Linked DNA regions of Homo sapiens: region 2 is linked to region 1. Evidence: fine-mapped expression QTL. A gene starts in region 1. The other region holds a variant in brackets. All regions are shown on one strand. Distances are between the middles of the regions.

Region 1 (8,814 bases):
CAGCAGGTGCAGATAAGACCAGAGGCTCAAGGATAGACAGAGGTGGCAGAATTTGTCTCCTTTTTGCAGGTCTAGCCTGAGTTTGCTCATCTGAAAAATAGCTGTTTCTTAGCAAGATCAGCTCAGAGGTGAGATGTGTCAGGAGGGAACCTTAGGAATACTTTGGGTTTATCTGCATAACTCAGTGTTACGTGTGACTGTTCAGTGTGACTGTGTGTGTGTGTGGTCGCAAGCTTTGGATCACAGGGGAACACAGGGATGGGCTTTAAGGCAGAGAATCTTGGGTGCGTTCAGAAGTCAAAGAGGACTTGGGAACAAGCTGGAAATCCCTTCTAGAAACAGTGCTTTCAGGGGCAGCCGCCATCCTACTTCTTCCTGGGAGTCCTTCCCCACCTGGGGTCTATAGCTCAGGTGTCCAGGCTACAGCTGTGACTGAGCTTCCTGCCCTCCTCTTGTTGGAAGACTTCCCGGCTCCTTCTCTGTCCGCTGGAGGGCTGATCTGGGCACCTCTCCCCTGTACTCCCATAGCACCCTATGTTCCATGCTACAATGGTTTCTTCGCCTTCCTGTCTTCCTCACCAGATTGTGAGATATTTTCATGACAGAGATTGTGTCTGATTTATTTCATTTTCCCCAGGACAGGATCCTGGCACTTGATAAGGGGTTTCCAGTGAATGAATAAATGAATGAATGAATGCAGCATCCCACCCTAGGGCTGGGGGTGAAGTAGGTTGCTTCCGAAGGATTCTCTCTCCTGCTCCAGAGAGAGGCATAGGGTTGCTGTTCATCGCTTTCATCATGAAACACAAATGATTTAGCAAAACTCTAGGCTGAGCTGCTATGGCTGTTAATGTGTCCTTGGCTCCTTTCTCTGTTTCTGAGTCTTTGTCTCCATCATTTTTCTCTGTGTTTCTATTTCTGTCACCTATCTCTCCATATCTTTGTGTTCCCTCCACCAACCCTAAATTTGTCCACACTTTAATTCTACCCAAGATACCCCTAAGATGCCTTTTCAGCCATCGGGGCACTCCCCCTTCTGTCTTCTGTTTCCCTAGCCTCTGATCTGGTTTCCTCCTTCCTGGGCCTCCCACCAATGACCAGCCCCAGATTCTGAGGCCCCTGTCCATCTTCCTTGGTGACTTCAGAGGAATCTCTGGGTTCGTCTATCCCTACTGCCCCTATAATGCAAGGGCTACCTGCCCAGAATTTTGCTGAGACAGTAGAAAAGTTTTGAGGAGGACAAACAACAAGTTTCCAATTCCAGCATGTATCCTGGAGGCCCCAGACGTCTTCATCCAGGTTACATTAGGAGTTATACCAGCAAGGGAGCCTAATGGTATCTAAAAGGTATGGTCTTTTGTAGGATCTCATCCTTAGCTTCGCAGGCTCAAAGGTTAAGATGATATCGTAGACTAAGCAGAGGATTTGAAGCCATTTTAGCCAAGTTAGATTCCTGCCTCTTCCATTCAGATCTTTGTGATCTTGGATAAGTGATTTCACTTCAGTCAACTCAGTTTTCTCATCAAAAAATGACAGTAACATGCCTATATGTTTGGTATAAGAATTAAACCAAATCACCTGTGGGAAAACCAAGTGTTACTGTGGAAACTAGGTCAGACTCAGGGGATACTAACTCACATTAATAAAACTCACACTGGACCAATGGGTAGCCCAGAATGTCCATGGGTCATTTAAAAGAGAAGCATGCCTGCAAAAGCAGCCCTAGTCGCTCCAACCAGCTGGGCAGTGCATTCTCTGCCCTAAAGGACATACAACCAGAAGATTCCCTGGTGGACATGGTGTCTCAGCAAGGGGACTTAGTTGTTTGATCTTGATAGCCACTGTCACCTGGCTATCGGAAGAACATAATGACTCATCTGCTTTCTAGGAATTTCCTGGGCAAAGTTTAGAACAGGTCAGGCTACCCATGACACTGGACAATACTGAAGATGCATGGACAAATTCTCGCCCTCTGGCTTTGCTTTGTTTAAAGACTCTATCATACAATTGTTCATTCATTCCTCAAATCTATATTGAGCTCCTCCTAAGTGCCGGGCACTGGGCTAGGTGGGTAGGGATACAAAAGAGGCACTGCCCCCTTGCCCTCCTCAGGGAGTTCACGGTGTTTGCAGAAAGACTGACAATTCCATACATAATTACCATTAATTGTGGTCAGTGTTATGAGAGTGAAGCAGAGGAAGCCAGAGGAACGAATGTGCAACATGTCAGCTAAGTCCACATAGGGGTCTGGGGAAGGGCTCCCCGAGGCAGTGTCCATGCACACATCCTTCCCTCAGCCAGGTGTCAGGGCACACTTGGGTCACTTGAATTCTGGCTCTCTTCAGCCAGTTGTCTGGCTACACCCTGACAACTCTGAGTGACCTCGGGTGTTTCCCTAGTCCCCACAAGCAATGCATCTACAAACTATCCCTTGGGTTGGGCTTGCAGACAATTCACTCTTTCATTCATTTAACAAATATTTATTGAGTCCCTATTAAGTACTGAAGCTAGCTCATTTCACCATGGGGAACTTTCGCCCCAACTTCCAGAGGTGCCTTACTGAAGCCCCCTGCACTGATTCCAGCCCACTTCAGAGCCTCTGGTTTCTTTTGGAGAGATGGGAGGACAGTTGAGGACGAGGACAGTGCAGCACTTGATGTCTCAAAGAATGGGCACCTGGTGTCGGGTAGTGACTCTCCCTCCCAGGAAGTAAATTAAGAAACTCCCCTACCCACCCTCCCAGCCCCTGTCCACAATTGCTTTCTGAGGTCCTTCCGTAGCACTCAATGGGCCTGGGATGGGCAGCTCTGCTGGCAGCAGCCGGAGCAGTGCCATGACCCAGGGAGACATTAATTCCTAGAAGCGGCAGAGGGCTGTGACTGGAGATTTGCTAGCCTTCAGGTCGCCTCTCATATAATTGTTCTAAGTCCAGTTTCTTGAGCTCTTTTATCAGATTCTAAACCCCTGTGTTCTCTTTGCACACTACCTGAGGGGCCAGGAATAATTTCCCCCATTGCACTGATGGATAGACCAAGGCACAGAGCTCACAAGCAACTTAACATTGGGGACAGAACTGGGAACCAGGTCTCCACCACAAACCAAAACCGCCTAAAGGCTCCCAGGGCCTCCCAGACATGGTTCTTCCCCTTCCTCAGGGGTGTTCAGAGGACTACTGTCTTCCCACCCCCTAGATCTCCAATCTTCAAAGCAAGCATCCCCAAGAGCACACCCCTCAGGTGGCCTCAATAGCTCCCATTGTCCAAGAGGCTCTTTGGCCTGACCCCCAGCCCCATAAGCAGCAGGACAGCAAGCTCAGAGGAGCTTGTCCTGCCTTGTCCCCCTCCTCTGCCTCGTCCCCCTCCTCCAGGGCCGCCTTGGGGGAGCCGGTGGGGCAGGAGCCCCGCTGAATGTGACCTATTGTCTTCGGGGTGGATTTAGGAAGTGCCAAGCTCCCATCACACAGCCCTGCTCCCCAGGTAAAACAAAAAAAGGGCTGTTCATTTGGGACCTTTTCCCCCTTATCTCCTTTTCCTATCTCCTCAGGCTTAGCTATGGTGTAGTGTTCAAAACCACTTCCCCTCTGAGCCAATCAGAAGCCGGGGCTCACCCCGTGGCCCTGAGGAAAAGTTATTTATAAACGCCTCCCTGGATTATTTGAGCAGAGCCCTTTCACACACCTCAGGAACACCTTTCGGCTGCCCGCTCCCCAGACACACCTGCAGCCCTGCCCAGCCGGCTTTGCTCACCCACTGGTAAGCCCCACCCAGCCCAGCCCACCCCACTGGGCTGGGGTCATCCCTGCAAGAGGGCAGTCACCAGGGGTACCGAGAGGAGGGATGACAGGAACCAACTGCCAAGCTGAGCACAAGTAGGAAGGACACTCTGGCCCCTGGAGTCTGAGAGCAGCCTCCCAGCCCTTCCCCTCTGAGGAGCCCTTTGGGTCTTCACGTCTATGTAAGGACCTGGGCTGCAAGGCTGGGCTTGACTGAGGGAGCAAGTAGGGTGAGGGTGTGGTGGTCGCCAGACCCCGAAACAGAGCGAGGCAAAGGCCTCCGAGGGAAAGGAAAATGTTAGACCTTCCTCCGCGACAGCCTTTGAAGCTGTGGGCTGCTCCTCTCCCTTTCTTTTCAAGTCTTGGAGGGAAAAGCTCTTAATGCTTGACTCACCAGCCTACTCTGCATGGCTGTCTCCCCCTCCTTCTACCGCCCAGACATCCTCCTTCACTCATGTACTTCTCCACCAGCTCGGGGAACTTAGCATGGACTACACAGAATCCCATGTGTCCCCATTAGTCCTGAGAAGTTGGAAGAGGTGGAGGGGGAGGAAACTGAGGAGTGGGAGAGGGTGAGCAAGGGACCAGCTCCATCAGGCAGGCGGGTGGGCGGTAGCTGGACCTGGGACGCCCGACTCAATGGTGAATGCTTCAACACAGAAGGGCTTGGGCCAGGACAGTGGATGGGCAGCCAGCTCTCCAGGCTCTCAGCCTCCAAACCCCTCATCCTGCAGCTCCAAGGGGTTCCAAGCCACTCTCAGGCAGTGCCCCCATTCCTCAAAACCAGCCCAGAGGGTCCCCAGCTGAGACCTAACAAAGCTTCTATTATTCCAGCATCAACTGCCCCCTTACACTTGGCCCCACGGGTCTGAGGACCAGAAGACCCTGGAGTGACGCAGCCCCCCAAGTGGGCAGACTGAGAGAGGGCTTTCCCCCTGAGTGGCTTCACTCATGCAGATGACCCTTTCTCAGAACCCCACAGTCCTCCCCCACCTCCCTCATCCTGGCCCTGGCATCCAGAACCTGGCAAGACCCTGCTTGGGCAGCATGGAGACCAGCATGGCCAAGAGCACCTCCACTGCCAGGAAGGCCTTCCCAGGCACTTCCCAGAGCTAGCCACCTGCTCTCTGAGTCTCATTTGTATAAACCCTGGGGCAGAGACGGACTCCTCTTTATCTTTTAATGCCCAGAGTCTTCCGGAGATTGGCATATACCCAGTATTCAAGAGTGCCTCTTAAACCGTACTAAACAGCCAGACTGACCCCCGTGAACTTGCTGGGGGAATCGAGGACCAGCTCAACACTGACCAAGCTTTGGGGGCTGTGGGGTCACTACTTGGAAGATGGAAGGGGCAGAGCCACCCCTTCAAGGGGAGTTGATCTTCACTGGATGCCTCTCTGGGCTTTCGCCTGGATTTCTGGGACCAGAGCAGCTGGGCCCTTCACTGGTCTCCTTGCCCAGGCCCTGCTTCCAAGTGAAAGCAACCCCAGTCTCCTTAAAGACTTCTAGGAATTTAACCTCAAGTGCCCATTCCAGGGAGCCCATGACCTTGTCAGTCTTGCTGTTAGGAAGTGATTCTCAAAGTCTAGCCTTGGTCCCTCTTTCTGGAGCCTATTTCCTCAGCCCAGCACCCATTCCCAGCAGGGAAAGTGCAGAGGAGGGAGAGTTCGCCTGGAGATAAGGAGTGGGGATTTGGGGGGTGGTATCAGTGAATCTCTCTCCTACACGGGATGCAGTCTCTAAGACACCTTAGGGACATCTCATCCTCCCCTACACTGAGGAGGAAATTAGGCTGGGGTGAGGAGTAGGGAGAGATTTGCCCTGGAAACACAGGGACAGTAGAAGGAAAAGGAGTGTTTAAAAATGCCTTGGGGGGCTGGGCGCAGTGGCTCAGCCTGTAATCTCAGCACTTTGGGAGGCCAAGGAGGGCAGATCACTTGAGGTCAGGAGTTCGAGACCAGGCTGGCCAACATGGCGAAACCCCGTCTCTACTAAAAATATAAAAAATATTAGCTGGGTGTCATGGCGCGCACCAGTAATCCCAGCTCCTAGGGAGGCTGAGGCAGGAGAATTGCTTGAACCCAGGAAGTGCACCCTGTGGTGAGCCAAGATCGTGCCACTGCACTCCAGCCTGGGTGACAGAGGGAGACTCCACCTCAAAAAACAAAAACAAAAAAACAAAACAAACAAACAAAAAAGCCTTAGGGGTGCAGAGGCCTCTACATCCTTCCTCCTCCTGCCATGGATGTGGTCTCCCACTGAGACCCCAGCCAGCTTGTCTGTCCCAGCTCACATTCACACCTGGGTCACTCAGAGGCTGCTCTTACCCTGTGGCCCCCACCCTGGATGAGGCAGGGAGGCAACCAGCAGCTAGAGCAAAGGGGAAACCTCAAGGTGACCTTTCCTCTTCCCAGAACACAGCAACCGGCTGGCTAGGAACCAGTGATAAGGATGCCAGGGTGGGTTGGCCCAGCCGGGGCTGTTCCCGTACCTGGCACACATGCGTCAAAAACCCCCTCCCTCACATGCACACCCCCGACAGGACTGAGGGAGGAAGTCAGCCTGGCCCACAGTGACAGGATCACCTCCAGATCCAACCAAAACCCACAAATGGACCCCTCACAGTCCTGCTCTGCAGATGTTCTACCCTCTTCTGACAAGATTTTCTGCTGTTCCTCTCATCAAGTCCTGGGAAAATTTGGAGGGGTTAAGGCATGGGGCAGCAGGTATAGGGGCAGATGGAAAAAGGCAAGCCAAAAAAAGGCAGAGTGCCCACTAGAGATGGCAGAGCAAGAAAGAGGCTCCTCTGGAGTCATAGCAGTAATGATGATAGTTGGAGTTTATTGCATGCTTCCCATGGCCAGGTGCCGTTCCGAGCCTTTCAGTGCATCCACTCGGGCACTGTCTCTGCCTGAGCCCATCTCTGCCCAAGCCCATCTCTGCCTACAATATTTGGATGGTGTTGACAGAGACCTGGTTAGAAATGTGACTGGGAGAAGGTACCAGGGGCGTGCTTTGGCATGAGCTCATTGGAGGAGAAATCCTGGAGAATCTCAAGAGGGAATCTGCTCCAGCCTGTGCCCTCCCTGCAGGGTCTATTTTCTCTTTGCTTCCCCTCTCCCAGCTACTCCGGCTCGCACGACCCCTGCATCCCCTCTGCTCCAGATTTGACCCACTCTCCTGCCAGTGCATGGGAGTGGCCCATGCACCCACATCTCCTGCCCTCTGCTCTCCTGGCTCACCCCCTACTCCCCTTAAACCCTACAGACCCCCTCTAAGTCCCTCCAGCTCTTTAGGACCTGCCCCCCTTCCCTGCACAGTGGAGGAGGGGCAGGGTCACCCTTTTGTTTCTCAGTATTATCACATGGCACCTGCTATTTATCCCTGGCCCGGTAGGGGGATGGAAGGCAGTGGAGGGGTGGTGGGGGCAGGGCTTGTAGATACACGCCTCTGGCAATAGGGCACTTGACTTTTTTTTCCAGCGATGCTGACATCACTTATCATGGCTGTTTGTTTGTTTAACTGGGGATCAGATTGTTATGTTCCCTATACCTGGCTCTCTTTCTTGCTCCCTCTTCCACTTTCCTGCCCCTAATGTAGCATCTGGCATCGTGAGACACCCTCTCTGAGGATTCCCTGGGACTCCCATCCCTGCTAGTTCTCTGAGACTCCTCCTCCCCACCATGCCACCCACCCTTTTCCACCACTCCCATCCCCCTTCCCTCCACCTCTTGCCCTCACCTGAAGGGCTGGCTGGGGATGAAGTACCCTTGTCTTCTACGTCCCACCCCACCTCAACCCCTATTCTTGGAATTAGGAAGTATGTTGAGGGCGCCTTCTCAGCAGGAGCTGGGGCAGTTCCTGTGGCTGCAGATTTGCAACTCTGGCCATCATATTCTTGGGAAACCAAGGCCAGGAGGGAACCAGAGCCCTCAAGAGGAGTAACAGAACCCAGAGGTCCTGTCCCATCAGCTGGGGTGGCAAGGTCACCAGGGTGGTCAGAAAGGGGCATTCTGAGTGCCACTCAGGGGAAAACATTGTCCTGAGATCAGCTTTGTCCCTGGAAGGTCTGAAGCCCCTTCGAATAGGAACACTGGAGTTAAATCAAGTGCAGTTTCTTTATCTGCAAAATGAGACAATTGGACAAATGTGGTCCTCAAGTTCTCTTCTACACAAAACTTTCTGACTCTGACTGGCTGCTGGGTTCTCCTCTTTATGCAAACTCAGGATTGTGAAAGCTCCCAGAGCCTTCTCCCCTTCAGCATCCTATTCCTGGGATGGGCAGATGGCATGGGAAAGAGACAGATTTGGTATTCCAGTAAAGCAAGGGAGGCTTTTCCTCTGTTAGCCTGTGTCAGAGGGGACTCCCTAGTATCTGGTGCTCCATCTGTCAGTGAGTCTGCCCAGAGGGGCAGAGCTGGTCCTGAGTCACCTACCTGTTGCTCTCTGAAGGACTTCCACCACCCCTGCCGCTTTCCTCCCAAAGAAAAATGGCCAAAGCCAACACTAGTGTACAGGCTGGAGGGGTGCACATGGAGATCCTGGGAGAAAGAGAAATCCTTCAGGGTTTCAAGGTGGTCAGGAAAGGCTTCATAGGCAAGAAGGAGAAGGGAAAAGAGTGGGAGAGGAAGGAGAGGGTTGGAGGAGGAACTTCAACAGGTCTTAAGGATGGGCAGATCTAGAAAGGCAGAAATGAGTCAGGGCACCTCAGGTAAGGAGGAAAGTGGGAACAGAGACTCAGGCTTGTTTGGTGGGTGCAGAACAGACCAGCCCAGATGGTGTGGAGGGACCCAGCCAACAGATTTCCTGAATCCACCAATACAAGGCCAGAGGATAAAAAAACAAAAATGCCAAAATAAGGAGTTTGGGCCTCATCCTCCTGGAAATGAGGGAGATAGAGGTTTCGGAGCAGGGAGTTTAGGCTGGGTTGGAGGGGCATGGCTGGAGACCAGCAGATCAATTTTTGCAATAGTCCAAACATGAGATAAGACTTGAAGAGGGAGGCAATGGGACAGGGTGGGTGGAGGTATGGAGGCAATGGA
Region 2 (8,814 bases), 24 kb after region 1:
ATTCTCCTGCCTTAGCCTCCCAAGTCGCTGAGATTACAGGTGCCACCACACCCAGCTAATTTTTGTATTTTTAGTAGATATTGGGTTTCACCATGTTGGCCAGGCTGGTGTCAAACTCCTGACCTCAGGTGATCCACCTACCTTAGCCTTCCAAAGTGCTGGGATTACAAGCCTGAGCCACTGCGCCCAGCCTGGGCATTTTTCTTCTTGGATGAGGTGCTACCATCTCCCAGGGAAGCCACTGAACCCCCAAGGCCCTTCTCCATTTTCTGGCTAAGATAGGACATGGCCCATGGACTTTTGAACAACCCAGAGGGGGAACAGCAGTGAATTTCCTGGGGAACCCAGGCAGCCCAGGGCTAGCAAGGCTGGGGTGGCCATGGCAGTAATCCTTGTAATCCCAGCACTTTAGGAGGCCGAGATGGGAGAATCACTCTCATGAGTTCAGGAGTTCGAGACCAGCCTGCCCAACGTGGCGAAACGCTGTCTCTACTAAAAATACACAAAAATTAGCCAGGCGTGGTGGTGGGCACCTGTAATCCCAGCTACTCAGGAGGCTGAGGCACGAGAATCACTTGAACCCGGGAGGCAGAGGTTGCAGTGAGCCGAGATAGTGCCACTGCACTCCAGCCTAGGCAACAGAGGGAGACTCTGTCTCAAGAAATAAAGGAGCTCAGTGTCCCCGGAGGGGCTTTCTCCCAGAGAGAGTGGGCTTGAGGCTTCAGTGCCTCTCTTGGCTGGGTCCTCTGACTTTGTCTGGGTTGTAGGAGACCAAGTTTGCAGGCCCTGCCTAAGAAAGGGCTTTGGGAGAGGCCTCTCTGGTGGAGCTTTCAGGGTCTGTGTTCACCATCACCGAGGCGAGTTATTCCCCTACACCTACACCCTCCATGCCCCTGCTTCAGTCACAGCAAGGTCTGGCTCAGTCTGGTGGTCCCTGACTCTGCCCACTGTCCCCACCCTTCCAGACTGTCTCCCTGCAGGAGCTGCAGCAGGACTTTGAGAATGCGCCCCCCACCGACCCCAACAACAACCAGACCCCGGCTAACGGCACCAGCGTGTCCTATATCACCTTCAGCCCTGACAGCTCCTCACCTGCCCAGAGTGAGCCACCAGCCTCCGCTGAGGCCCCCGGCGAGCCCAGTGACATGCTGGCCAGCGTCCCACCCTTCGTCACCTTCCACACCCTCATCCTGGACATGAGTGGAGTCAGCTTCGTGGACTTGATGGGCATCAAGGCCCTGGCCAAGGTGAGGCCCTCGGGAACAGCAAGCACCACCCACTCCACCCCCTCCGCTCTGCTCTCCACATTCCCTTTCCTGGGAGCCCTCATTTCAGGAAGCTGAGGGAGGAAGCTCACTGGGGAGACTAACAGCTCCTAGGAATCCCTCCTTTCCCCAGACGCCACCAGGTTGAGACATTCTCCACAGAGCAGGCCCAGACGGCCCATGACAATGAGTGGCGGGACAAGTCTACCAGAGTTTCAGGCCCCTGTGCTCCCAACACCCCCAGCAGTGGCCATCCCAAGTCCCTCTCAGCCATCAGGAACCCACCCAGGTTCTCTGAGGAGGGTCCGGTTTGGCTCCTGGTTCATGATCTGCTGCCCTTGTCCCTCATTCACCGGCCACCCTAGGACAGGAGAAGGAATAATACCAGTGCCCCACACCATCAGGCCAAACAGAGAGCCCACGGGACACCTTGAATGAATGTATCCATCTGATAACTTTCCAGCAGCCACCGCCAATGGCGGGAGTCAGCAAACCTCAGAGCTGGCTCAGATAGAGGCAAGCCAGGGGAACAATGGGCACAGAGAGTGTTCGGACTGCCTTCACCATCAACCAGGCGCAGGGCAGGCCCCATACCCAGCCTTGGGCCTCAGCCGGCTTCCTTAGCCAGGATCTGGAGTCCAGGCCAGCCTTGGCTGAAGCTCTAGACTCCCTGAGCCTCCATCCTCCCCTGCAGCTTCTGTCTGAAGCCACAAAGAAGTCTGAGAATCTAAGCTACTGAAAGAAAAGATCAGCCGGGCGTGGTGGCTCACTCCTGTAATCCCAGCACTTTGGGAGGCCAAGGCAGGTGGATCACAAGGTCAGGAGTTCAAGACCAGCCTGGCCAACATGGTGAAACCCCGCCTCTACTAAAAATACAAAAATTAGCCAGGTGTGGTGACGGGCCCCTGTAGTCCCAGCTACTCGGTAGGCTGAGGCAGAGAATTGCTTGAACCCAGGAGGCGGAGGTTGCAGCGAGCCAAGATCACGCCACTGCACTCCAGCCTGGGCAACAGAGTGAAACTCCATCTCAAAAGAAAAAAAAAGAAAATATCTAGCCCCACAAGAAGGGGCCATGGTGACTTTAAGTGCCCGCCACGTTGGCAAAAGTCCATTTCCGCTCCACTTCCCAGAGAAACCGTCAGCCAACACTCCAGGGAGAAGTGGTGTGCTTTGCTGCTATTTTTGTCTTTGGCTGCTGGGCTCTCAGGGTTGCTTATTTGTTTGGCTTCCCCTCTGAAGTACGTTTTGTGAATCACTTTTGAGACCCACTCAGAACATTCCTTTCCTTTTGCCTCCCTACCCCAACAACACTTCTAGCTGAGCTCCACCTATGGGAAGATCGGCGTGAAGGTCTTCTTGGTGAACATCCATGGTAAGAGAAAGAGGACATTTAGGGACTGAAAGACTGGCAAGGAGTGTGGGGTAGGAACAGGTTGGTGGGGTCTGAATAGTGAGGAGGTTGGAAACGAGAGCACCCAGCTATCCCCCACAAGCTGCTGCCTGCTCATAAAAGCTTCAGGTACAAGTCCAAAGAGACTGGTCAGATTGCATAAACATCCTAGGGGCCTTAGTGACAGAGTGGGGGTGAGGAGGTCATGGAGTTACAGAAGGACAGCTAGGATTCTAATCTACCCCATAACTAATTTGCCACGTATCCTTGGCCGAGTCACTTTATCTCTCAAGGGATCTATTTCTACCTATGTAAAACGAGAGGGTTGACTAGATGGATTTGGGGATCCTCTCCCAATCAGAAACTCTGTGAATCGATATAGGCATAGAGCACACGGTACCCTAATTCCCCAGGGAACATATAAATATGCAGTTTTGTAGGCATACAGCCTCCAAAGGGTGCATATACACAGCCTCAAGGACGTGGCCACAGGGCAGCAGACATTTACATGACTAGCATGTACGCAAAGTGCAGAGATGTGGGAGCAAGTGCACACAGACACACAGGAGAATGTGAAGGGGCACATACACACACACCCAGCTCCCTGCACTGGGTCAGACCCCCTCCAGCAGGGCTGCAGTTCCCAAGCTCCGCATGGCCACGTTCGGGGAGAGAATCTGCAGTGGCAATGACCTGCTATGATATGTTCTGGAGTTAGAAGCAGTGGATTCTCCCCAACCTCACTGGACACCCCCTCAGGAAACCATCTCTAGGATTAAGAGTAATCCACACAAACTTCCAATGCCACACATTGGAAGTTGCTGGAAAGGTCTGGGAAAACAAGAGGAAGGATGGGTCCTTGGGGGATAGAACTGGCAGCGGCCTCTTCAAGGATGGCTTAGGCTTTTCCACTCGAATCACCACAAAGTACTGACTCCCTAAATCAAACTGCTTCCTTCTGCTCTGGGTTGAAACTTCAGCATCCTCAAGTTCATGTTGCCCTCTGCCGTCCAAAACTGATATTGCACTGCCAATGCCATGGCCCTCAGATACAGCAAGAGCTGGGACCTCAGGCCTCTCCCATCCCTGCTCTGGTCTCACTATCTTCCCCACCCCCAGCTCCAATCCACAATGGCTGTTATCTTTCTGAAGGTGATCTTTTCTCCTTCTAGCCCAGGTGTACAATGACATTAGCCATGGAGGCGTCTTTGAGGATGGGAGTCTAGAATGCAAGCACGTCTTTCCCAGCATACATGACGCAGTCCTCTTTGCCCAGGCAAATGCTAGAGACGTGACCCCAGGACACAACTTCCAAGGGGTAAGGTTCTTGCACCTGGGGAATCCTAGGCTCCAAGGCACTGAAATAGCAGGACCAAGAGGCATTATTAGAAAGAACACAGGAGAAGGTTTAAGTTCCAATATCAAGTCTGCCATTTCAGTTTTCTGAATCTGTTTCCTTATCTATAGAATGAGCACCATCAACTAACATTACCTACCTCTCTGCATTTTTCTTTTATTTTGTTTTAGGGTTAAATGATAATTACATCTTTTGTGTCACTTGAAAGCACTTTGTGTATTGTAAAAATTCTTTATCAATATAAGTTTTCTGGTTGCACAAACACCCAAAGCATAGTAGAGCAGGCCCACTCTGCTGGCATCGTTCCCTGCCTCCTCCTCATCTCTTTCTAAAGGGGGCTTTCGGGAAGGGAGGGGAGGGGAGTAAGCCTACCCATTTTAACTTACCGGAGCTTAGAGATTTCAGGCTGGTGAGGGATAAAGAGATTGGGTCTGAGTTTTGTCTCAGCTTTTTGACATTTAATTTACTAGCTCAGTAAGTTACAAATGGGATACAAATAACACCATCTAAAACTCCAGAAGACTGGGGAGTCAGAAAAAGCCTACCTCCTTGGGGTCCCTGCCCAGATCCCCAGTCATCTCTAGCCCTCAGGGTCCCCTCCCAGCTCAGCTCCTGCCCTTGGCCTCCCAAGACTCTTGTTGTGCCCCAGCCCTGGGTAAAAACCTCCCCTGCCCTCTGTGGGTCATAAGAAAGGCT[T/A]TTCTGGCCCTAGAGCAATGATTTGCTCTTTGCCTTAAGAGACTGATGAAGGTGAAACCATCTGTTCTAAGTGCTGAAAGACTGCCCAGGAACACACAGGGCGCTGGCTCCTGCCCTCCATGCCTAGAGGGAAACCCTGGGGAAACAACGGGCTTTCCTGCTTCGTGAATTTGTCCGCAGAGCAAAGAGGGAGATTCTGGAGGAAGCTGCATTAGTTGTTAGTGCCCTAATCATGTTCAGCTACTCTAGTTGGTATGTATACTTGATTAGTCATAGACTTATAAATAATTTATATTTTATATAATATATACTTACATATTATAGACCATTCACAGATACAAATCACACACATAAACACACACCTTTTCAACAGCATTGTGAGGGACAAAGCAGGCAAAGTGAGGCTGGTTATCAGACTTGAACAGATTAGAAAATATATTCCCAGGAGGACAGGAATTCCCCAAGGTCAGGCAGCTAGCCAATAGTTTTTCTAAGCTGAGTAAAACCTTCCCTGCCTCTAACGGCCCACAAAGGAGGGAAGACCGCGATACACACCTGTCTGGTATAAGGGGGAAGACCACAGCCGTGCTGTTTTTGTGAGGCAGGTAAGGGAAGGGGCAAGAGGATAAGTCATGTGTCAGGAAGCAGCGTCCAACCAGAGCCGGCCACCTGTCCCTTTTCCTGCCACCATGCACCAACTTTGCTGTTCAGTCACTGAAGCTCATTCTGCACTGGCTTCCTCCCTTCCAGGCTCCAGGGGATGCTGAGCTCTCCTTGTACGACTCAGAGGAGGACATTCGCAGCTACTGGGACTTAGAGCAGGTGAGCTGAGGGAAGGGGCTGTGAGGGTGGGAGCAGGGCGAAGAGGGGAAGGATGGGGTCGCTGTCAAATACAAGGCGTTCACTCAGCTGTCTCACCTCCAGCCCAGAGCAGTCACATTCAAGGCCACAAAGATTTGTGGTCATCTTTGTTTTTTTTCTTTTCCTTTTCTTTTTTTTTTTTTTTTAATTTGAGACAAAGTCTCACTCTATCACCCAGACTGGAATGCAGTGGCATGATCTCAGCTCACTGCAACCTCTGCCTCCCGGGTTCCAGAGGTTCTCCTGCCTCAGCCTCCCGAGTAGCTGGGACTTCAGGCCTGCGCCCAGCTAATTTTTGTATTTTTAGTAGAGACAGCTTTTCACCATGTTGGCTGGGCTGGTCTCGAACTTCCGATCTCAAGCAATCTGCCTGCCTCGGTCTCCTAAGTGCCTGGATTACAGGCATAAGCCACGATGCCTGGCCTTTGTTTTCATTCTTCTCACTCCCTGAAAGTTATCGTGGGGAGAGGGTGAGTCACTGGACCAAGTCCTAGAGAACCAGTATCTATTCTTATTCTCCAACACATCACCCACGTGACCCTGAGCAAGCCACATACACCCTGGGCCCTAGTTTTTATCATCTGTGAAATTAGGGGAAACATAGGTAATACCTGTCCCATCCACCACACAAGATTGGCAGGGCAGTCACTTGTTCTTTCATTAATTCAGCAGGTATTTATGGCGTACCTACTGTTTGCCTGACACAGTTCAGGATGGGCACATAGCAGTGAGCAAAACAAAGGCCTCTGCCTTTTAGAAACTTACGTTATGGTAGAATAGATGGATTCTGGGTCTACAAATGAATTATTATTGCATGTGGACAAGCCTTAAGAACTAAAAAATATGTGGCTGGGTGCAATGGTTCACACCTGTAATCCCAGCACTTTGGGAGGCTGAGGTGGGCGGACCACCTGAGGTCAGGAGTTTGAGACCAGCCTGGCCAACATGGCGAAACCCCGTCTCTACTAAAAGCACAAAAATTAGCCAGGCGTAGTGGTGCATGCCTGTAGTCCCAGCTACTCGGAAGTCTGAGGCATGAGAATCACTTGAACCTGGGAGGCAGATGTTGCAGTGAGCCGAGATCGTGCCACTGCACTCCAGCTTGGGTGACAGAGCTAGACTGTCTCAAAAACAAACAAAACAAAACCTAAAAGATATGTGGATATGAGGGATCACCATCCCCATAGGGCCCCTGGATTAACACCACCCCACCAATGCCCTGAATTAAAAGAAACCAGATGACTAGGTTTGGAGAAATCTGGCTTTGGGTCTATGAGAAGTAGTGTCTCTCTTTGTGCCTCTTCCCATTCTTTTTGACATTGAGCTCCATGGTGCTCTGAATCCGTCTCTCACAGTGCTGATGGCAGGTGGGACAGATTAGAAAATAGAGCTGGAGCCACAGAGATTTGGCAGACTGATTTCGGTGCCCTCTTGGAATCTCCAGCACATTCCAAAAAGCCTGGATAGGACCAAAATAGCTTATCAACGTGAGAAAGGACTTCAGAGCTTGTCTACTGCCAACCCTCATTTTACCCAATGAGGAAAGTGAAGCTATTAGGGGGCGAGGGACACGTGGAAGGTCACACAGCACACAGGAGGTGATTCACATGTAGATTTCAGCACCTGCTCCTGCCACGCTGGACTGGTTCACCTCCTAGGCTGACCCTGCCTCTCCCCTGTTCACACACACTCTCGCACACACACACACACACACACACACACACAGGTGCTTTGTTCTGGCCAGGGGTTCCTAGGGTCACCTCTTGGTTGCAGCCACTGTGACCCCAACTGGTCTAACCTCTCTCTTCCCCTCCCACTTCCTTCCTGTGGTTCCTGCAGGAGATGTTCGGGAGCATGTTTCACGCAGAGACCCTGACCGCCCTGTGAGGGCTCAGCCAGTCCTCATGCTGCCTACAGAGTGCCTGGCACTTGGGACTTCCATAAAGGATGAGCCTGGGGTCACAGGGGGTGTCGGGCGGAGGAAAGTGCATCCCCCAGAGCTTGGGTTCCTCTCTCCTCTCCCCCTCTCTCCTCCCTTCCTTCCCTCCCCGCATCTCCAGAGAGAGCCTCTCAGCAGCAGGGGGGTGCTACCCTTACAGGAGTGAGAGTCTGGTGAGCCCACTCTTCACCCGTCAGGCCCTGGCCGCAATGGACAAGCCTCCTGCTCACTCCACCCCACCCACCTCTGCCCTGTCCTTGGCAGCTGAAGGACACCTTGACTTCCAGCTTTTACGAGTGAGCCAAAAACAGAAGGACAAGTACAACTGTGCTGGCCTGCTGTACAAGCTTCAAAAAGTGTCCCAGAGCCCACACGGCTCGGTGTCAGATGGTGTCAGGCTGTCACGGACATAGGGATAAACTTGGTTAGGACTCTGGCTTGCCTTCCCCAGCTGCCTCAACTCTGTCTCTGGCAGCTCTGCACCCAGGGACCATGTGCTCTCCACACCCAGGAGTCTAGGCCTTGGTAACTATGCGCCCCCCCTCCATCATCCCCAAGGCTGCCCAAACCACCACTGCTGTCAGCAAGCACATCAGACTCTAGCCTGGACAGTGGCCAGGACCGTCGAGACCACCAGAGCTACCTCCCCGGGGACAGCCCACTAAGGTTCTGCCTCAGCCTCCTGAAACATCACTGCCCTCAGAGGCTGCTCCCTTCCCCTGGAGGCTGGCTAGAAACCCCAAAGAGGGGGATGGGTAGCTGGCAGAATCATCTGGCATCCTAGTAATAGATACCAGTTATTCTGCACAAAACTTTTGGGAATTCCTCTTTGCACCCAGAGACTCAGAGGGGAAGAGGGTGCTAGTACCAACACAGGGAAAACGGATGGGACCTGGGCCCAGACAGTCCCCCTTGACCCCAGGGCCCATCAGGGAAATGCCTCCCTTTGGTAAATCTGCCTTATCCTTCTTTACCTGGCAAAGAGCCAATCATGTTAACTCTTCCTTATCAGCCTGTGGCCCAGAGACACAATGGGGTCCTTCTGTAGGCAAAGGTGGAAGTCCTCCAGGGATCCGCTACATCCCCTAACTGCATGCAGATGTGGAAAGGGGCTGATCCAGATTGGGTCTTCCTGCACAGGAAGACTCTTTAACACCCTTAGGACCTCAGGCCATCTTCTCCTATGAAGATGAAAATAGGGGTTAAGTTTTCCATATGTACAAGGAGGTATTGAGAGGAACCCTACTGTTGACTTGAAAATAAATAGGTTCCATGTGTAAGTGTTTTGTAAAATTTCAGTGGAAAT

Alleles and levels. Alleles are on the strand shown, and positions count from the first base shown. SD is a standard deviation of normalised expression in the study named.
For the expression in pancreas of the gene that starts at base 3,661 in region 1, allele A in region 2 goes with a higher level than allele T (small effect, 0.31 SD a copy in GTEx).

What was found. PIP is the estimated chance that this variant, and not a neighbour inherited with it, causes the effect.
Region 2: its variant is fine-mapped to the expression of SLC26A9 in pancreas (GTEx, PIP 0.95).

What each region holds. Positions count from the first base shown.
Region 1 is chr1:205,938,303-205,947,116 of GRCh38, reverse strand. It overlaps SLC26A9 (solute carrier family 26 member 9), which reads left to right and starts at 3,661. Exons shown (of 21, transcript NM_052934.4): 1 at 3,661-3,752. All of the region lies in intron 2 of SLC26A9-AS1 (SLC26A9 and RAB7B antisense RNA 1), which reads right to left.
Region 2 is chr1:205,913,999-205,922,812 of GRCh38, reverse strand. It overlaps SLC26A9 (solute carrier family 26 member 9), which reads left to right. Exons shown (of 21, transcript NM_052934.4): 17 at 966-1,247; 18 at 2,583-2,637; 19 at 3,828-3,973; 20 at 5,459-5,530; 21 at 7,409-8,814. The coding sequence ends at 7,456. Among named protein-coding and RNA genes, the nearest start is that of SLC26A9-AS1, 17 kb to the left of the region's middle. RefSeq lists enhancers at 1,718-2,248, 2,249-2,780. The variant T/A (reference allele first, on the strand shown) is at 4,709.